2 separate regions of the Homo sapiens genome follow, and region 2 is reported to be linked to region 1. Evidence: microRNA targets listed by miRTarBase, many of them from high-throughput screens and not tested one by one. Region 1 holds a microRNA gene; the other region holds the end of a gene's coding sequence.

The links. Region 1 holds the annotated microRNA hsa-miR-766-3p (ACUCCAGCCCCACAGCCUCAGC, at 1,955-1,976, opposite strand). A microRNA usually pairs through its seed, bases 2 to 8, with sites in the 3' UTR of a target mRNA and lowers its output. Matches are read on the target gene's strand: a 7mer-m8 pairs with bases 2 to 8, a 7mer-A1 pairs with bases 2 to 7 and ends in A, and an 8mer does both.
Region 2: the mRNA of TTC39A is a reported target of hsa-miR-766-3p. The part of its 3' UTR that is shown has no 7-base or 8-base seed match.

What each region holds. Positions count from the first base shown.
Region 1 is chrX:119,644,809-119,648,032 of GRCh38, forward strand. MIR766 (microRNA 766) reads right to left here and starts at 2,040; the gene lies at 1,930-2,040. All of the region lies in intron 5 of SEPTIN6 (septin 6), which reads right to left. RefSeq lists an enhancer at 3,094-3,224.
Region 2 is chr1:51,285,403-51,288,496 of GRCh38, forward strand. It overlaps TTC39A (tetratricopeptide repeat domain 39A), which reads right to left. Exons shown (of 18, transcript NM_001297663.2): 18 at 1,856-2,878. The coding sequence ends at 2,755. Among named protein-coding and RNA genes, the nearest start is that of TTC39A-AS1, 43 kb to the right of the region's middle.

The sequences.
Region 1 (3,224 bases):
CCACTGCACTGCAGCCTGGCCGACAGAGCGAGACTCCATCTCAAAAAAAAAGGGCCTTCATCCCATTAACAAGGGAGAAGCCCTCATGGCCCAATCACATTTTTTTTTTTTTTTTAAGATGAGAGTTTCGCTCTTGTTGCCCAGGCTGGAGTGCAATGGCACGATCTCGGCTCACTGCAACCTCCGCCTCCCGGGTTCAAGCGATTATCTTGCCTCAGCCTCCTGAGTAGCTGGGATTACAGGTGCCTGCCACCACGCCCAGCTAATGTTTGTATTTTTAGTAGAGACAGGATGTCGCCATGTTGGCCAGGCTGGTCTTGAACTCCTGACCTTGGGTGATCCACCCGCCTTGGTCTCTCAAAGTGCTGGGATTACAGGTGTGAGCCACCGCGCCTGGCCAGGCCCAATCAATTCCTAAAGGCCCTACCTTTTTTTTTTTTTTTTTTTTTGAGACGGAGTCTCACTCTGTCGCCAGGCTGGAGTGCAGTGACGTGATCTCAGCTCACTGCAACCTCCGCGTCCCGGGTTCAAGTGATCCTCCTGCCTCAGCCTCCCGAGTAGCTGAGACTACAGGTGTGTGGCACCATGCCCAGCTATTTTTTTTTTGAGATGGAGTTTTGCTCTTGGTGCCCAGGCTGGAGTGCAATGGCGTGATCTCAGCTCACCACAACCTCCGTCTCCTGGGTTCAAGCGATCCTCCTGCCTCAGCCTCCTGAGTAGCTGGGATTATAGGCATGTGCCACCATGCCCGGCTAATTTTGCATTTTTAGTAGAGACGGGGTTTCTCCATGTTGGTTAGGCTGGTCCCGAACTCCCGACCTCAGGTGATCCACCCGCCTCGGCCTCCCAAGTAGCTGGGATTACAGGTATGAGCCACTGCGCCTGGTAATTTTTTGTATTTTTAGTAGAGACGGGGTTTCACCATGTTGGCCAGGATGGTCTCGATCTCTTGACCTTGTGATTCGCCCACCTTGGCCTCCCAAAGTGCTGGGATTACACGTGTGAGCCACTGCACCCAGCCCCGACCTCTTAATACTATCATACTGGCCACACCTGAATTTTGGAGGGGACACAATCAAACCATAGCACCACCTTTACTGACTTGTGTCTAACTTAAATTCTTCTTGTACATTGTAAAGTACTTAATAATCCAATTGGCGTGAGTTACTTTATTCTTATTTCACCACATCCATTATACTTGGGAGGCTAGGTGACTGCTTAGCCCAGTGAAATACACACTGTCAGAACTCTTTATTCCTCATCTAATGATAATATTCTGATTGGGCTTGGTTTCCTCCCAGGGTGGACAGTGTTTCCCAGTTATGTTAGTCCCCATTTCAGGCCCCTGCTGGTGACTGAACAAGACCATTGGCTGATTTGCTCTCAAGTCAACCACTGGTGATTCCTGTAAAAGTACATGGCAACAATGGAAATACCATTGCTGTCTCAGAGGAAGGGATGGACTTGTGCCTGTGGGTCTTCCTATGACCCTACTGTTCAGCCATGTGTTCTCACTGGGCCCAAATGTCAATTGCCTTTGTGGGAACCAAACCCCAGACCTCACAAATGGACAATTAATGGAGCTCAGTCAATTAAGTAACTGGGCCTTTTTGCTGGTCCTGGCCATGCTTTCAGCCATTCAAAGAACATCATTAAATTTAAAATAACATAGCAATTCTTAGTATTAAAGTCTACAACCTTGAGAGATATCAGAGCATGGGTTGAAAATAGCATGCAACAAGACCTCGCTCTCCCTTCTCTTCCCCCTCAATCTACAATAAGGTTTTCTGGAGCCACCCATAATTCAAGGTGGTGGCAGGGACCTCATTACTCTCATTTCCTGCCACAAAAATCCCCCATGGTGAGAGACAGGACATTGTACAGTCTTCTCCACTCAGGCAACAGATTTCTTCCGCTTCTTCCAATCCAGCTCCTATGACAATTGGCTGGGGTGGCTGAGGCTGTGGGGCTGGAGTCAAATCCAAAATGAAAGACCAGCACCAATTCCTCCTACCACCCAAGCCCAGGTCCTGAGGATGCAGCTTCATACACCACGGCTTGTGTGAAGACTCTGGGGACTTTTGACATAGTTGTTCGGTGGCAGGCAGGCTAAGCAATCCTCTGTGTATATTTGATAGCACCCTCTTTCCCATCACAGCGCATGTAACACAAAACACTCACATGCAAGCTCCTCTCACAGGCATGCCAATTCAGGCACACTAGCTGTGAGGCCACTCCTCTCTTTCCCACTCAAAAAAAACCCATAGTGGATTAGCCGGGCATGGTGGTGCATGCCTGTGGTCCCAGCTACTCGGGAGGCTGAGGCAGGAGGATTAGTTGAACCCAGGAGGTGGAGGCTACAGTGAGCTGAAATTGATTGCATCACTGTACTCCAGCCTGGGCGACAGAGTGAGAGCCTGTCTCAAAAAAAAAACAAAGCACAGTAGGATGCAAGGGAGTAAGTGGTGAGTGATTTATGATAGGGATAATCCTGAATCCACTGGAATTCCCTGCTCCTCTCCTCTCCTCCCCTCCCCTCCCTTCCTCCATTCCTTCCTTCCTTCCTTCCACTGGAATTCCCTCCCTCCCTCCTCCCTTCCTTCCTTCCTTTTTATTTCTTTCTCTCTTTCTCTCTTTATTTACTTTCTTTTTCTTTCCTTTCCTTTCTCTCTCTCTTTTTTTTTTTTTGTGAGACAGGGTGTTGCTCTGTCACCCAGCCTGCAGTAGTGCAGTGGCTCGATCAGGGTTCACCGCAGCCTCAACTTCCCAGGCTCAAGTAATCTTCCCACTTTAGGCCACCCACCGACCAAGTAGCTGAGACTACAGGTGTGCGCCACAGCACCAGTTAATTTTTTCTTTTTTGAGATGGAGTTTTGCTCTGGTTGCCCAGGCTGGAGTGCAAAGGCGAGATCTCAGCTCACTGCAACCTCTGCCTCCTGGGTTCAAGCGATTCTCCTGCCTCAGCCTCCTGAGTAGCTGGGATTACAGGCATGCGCCACCATGCCTGGCTAATTTTGTCTTTTTACTAGAGACGGGGTTTCTCCATGTTGGTCAGGCTGGTCTCGAACTCTTGATCTGAGGTGATCCACCTGCCTTGGCCCCCGAAAGTGTTGGAATTACAGGCGTTAGCCACCGCGCCCGGCCACTAGTTAATTTTTTTTAAATTTCAGTAGAGATGAGGTCTCACTATGTTGTTCAGCCTCGAATTTTGTTTCTCAAAGTGA
Region 2 (3,094 bases), not on the chromosome of region 1:
TTGCAGGTGGGGTACAGGAGGCAAAACCCACTGATTTATCTTATCAGGGCAGCAGAGGTAAAAGTGACATAGGATTAATTAACAAAGCCCAGGAGGAAATAAACAGCAAATGTTGACGAGGAAATCATCTTGACCAAATTTTAAAATGAAAGCACCCGTGGCCGGGCGTGGTGGCTCATGCCTGTAATCCCAGCACTTTGGAAGGCCAAGGCAGGTGGATCACGAGGTCAGGAGATCGAGACCATCCTGGCCAACATGGTGAAACCCCATCTCTACTAAAAATACAAAAATTAGCTGGGCATGGTGGCGCATGCCTGTAATCCCAGCTACTCAGGAGGCTGAGGCAGGAGAATTGCTTGAACCCGGGAGGCAGAGGTTGCAGTGAGCTGAGATCGCGCCACTGCACTCCAGCCTGGTGACATAGCGAGACTGTCTCAAAAAAAAAAAAAAAAAAAAAAGCACCCGAAATGAGTTTTTTTGTAAACTGCAATTTTCCAAAGTATGTGTTTGGTGTCCTGTGAGTAGTGCTGCTTTGATACAGCAGCAGGCAACATTCCAACATGTGGGGAAGCCATGGAGGCCTGTCCTCCTGCAGCCTGTCTCTACCCGCTCACCCTGTCCTGTCCAGGAGCCTAGAAACAGGTTGGTCTCCCAGCATCCAGGCTTTGGAGAAGAGATAGCTTGCAAAGGGATTACTCTCTATGGAGGACATTCTTTTGTTTCATTCTAATAATATGAGAGATTTTTTTTTCATAGCATTTCTACTCTGACAATACTCATTGGAAAAGATAATCTTGGGTGAGGGTTTTTTTGCTTTTTTTCCTAATAATATATTTTGCCTAAAACCCATTACTTCATTCGATGTCACCCATAGGAGGCTGGTCAACTGGATCTTTTTTTTTTTTTTTTGAGATGGAGTCTCCCTCTGTCGCCAGGCTGGAGTACAATGACACGATCTCAGCTCACTGCAACCTCTGCCTACTGGGTTCAAGCGATTCTCCTGCCCAAGTAGCTGGGACTACAGGCATGCGCCACCACGCCCAGCTAATTTTTTAATTTTTAGTAGAGACGAGGTTTCACCATATTGGTCAGGATGGTCTCGATCTCCTGACCTCATGATCCACCCACCTCAACCTCCCAAAGTGCTGGGATTACAGGCGTGAGCCATCGTGCCCGACCGACTGGATCTTTATATATTAACCCAGACCCTTGGCAGATACTCGTGTTTGTTAAATACAGCAATCCTAGAAGATTGGAAAGTTTAACTGGTTCTTCTCTCGTAGAAACTGCATTCATGCATTTGGGGAGTAACGTTTTCACAGATGAATATTTTTACTGTGTGCATGATTTTCCCTACGGGGAAATGGTTAGGTTGAAGTGTGCTGACATCAGAAAGTGAAGAGTAAAACCTGGTGTTGGTCATTGAACCTGAGTTCTCACTTTAACAATCCTAGAGGTTGCAAATTCAGATGCTTTTAGGGGCCAGAAAGGTAACAGAAGTGTTTAAAGTAGCCTGGACTTAGCTCTAGCTGATTGTTGCCTCATGGGAATGAGGCTCAATGTTGCCATTTTTGTTTGTTTGTTTTTAAATTACAGGCCAGGAACCAGATTCATCTGTAAAATCTCCCCATTTGTGAATGCTGGTAACTTATTCAAAAAGTTTAAAACATTGTGTGGTCTAAATAAAACATACATAGGCCGTGTGGCTTCTGATCAAGACTTTCTGCCTGGCCTAAGGATTCATGCAACACATATTTTATTGAAATACATGATGCACGATCCCTTAAGGGCATAAATTTTATCACTTAAATATCTCTTTTCTCTTAACTGAAGAATCTAACGCATACACAACAGGTCAAGAATAACAGTTTTAACAAAAATGCTGTCAGTAAGCAAATGTACCTTGGAGTGAAGTACAGAAGATTTTTATGTTTCATAAATTATTCCCAGTGGTTTCAGTTTGGCATACAGCAAAGATACAGACTGGATTCTGAGAACCTCCTCCTGCCCCCCAAATTTCCTGGCTTTGGCATAGAAAGGGCTACACAGCTCTTCCATCAAGCCCTGGCATTTTCTACTGGTAGAGATTGATTTTTCTACAGAAGAGCTCAGATTTTATCTCACTAAAAAGACGTGCTTGATTTTTAAATTGGAAATTTACAAAAGGAGTGAAATGAAGTGTGAGTAGTAAGGTAGTGGGTGTCTGTGTACATCCTCATGCCCAACCCCAGAAGCATTGAAGCCTGAGGCTTAGCCTCTCCCAGGCATTCCTCAGGTCCTCTGAAGGACCTTCCGTCACACAAGCTGAGAACTTGCTGAATTTGAAAAGCAATTTGCCCTTTGGCATCATCATATAAAGAGATTTACCTCCAGATGATAATAGGTGAAGACAAAGACTTACAGGTGGTTGATTGTTGTTGGTTTTTAAAGCCAACTGTGATCCCATCAATGTATTTCTAAGGAAAATGTAAACTGTTCATACATTCTCTTAAACATCACAGTGAAAAGCAAGTACCCGTATGTGTGATAGGGCAGGCAGAGGGCTCCACCTGCTCTGCCCTTGGCAAAGGCCCTTGGCTACACTGGTGAAAATGCCAGCTCGGCTTCTGCACGGATACACTATGTTGTGCCATCCAACTGGAGTGCCGGTGGACCCCAAAGGCAGGGCAGGGCAGGGGGAGGGGGTATTTTGAAATGTTTTCAGGAGCTCTGTCCAGCTGTCTCTGTCTTCCAGCCCGGAACTGCTGCACAAAGCTACAAGGACACTGATGAGACCATGGATCTGCTGCTGTTCTCTAGGGAAGACTTGGCTTGGAGTGTGGCTGCCTGGATTCGAAAGTGTGTCCTTGACTCCATGGAGTAATTCTTGTAGTTTTGCCTGGAATTGAGCAGCGAATCAGACACATGAGGCTGCCTGCTCCCAGAGATGCTTTTCCTCCTGTTTGAGCTGTATGAGCCCCGCGAGCCAAGGAAGGATTGTAGAGAAATTAATGTGTCCAGAGAGAGTTGAGCCCTACCCAATGGGAGAGTTAACCAGAAGGGTTTGTGGCCCCTCATCCCTGGTATCATGGCCACTGGAACCACTCCTGGTCCT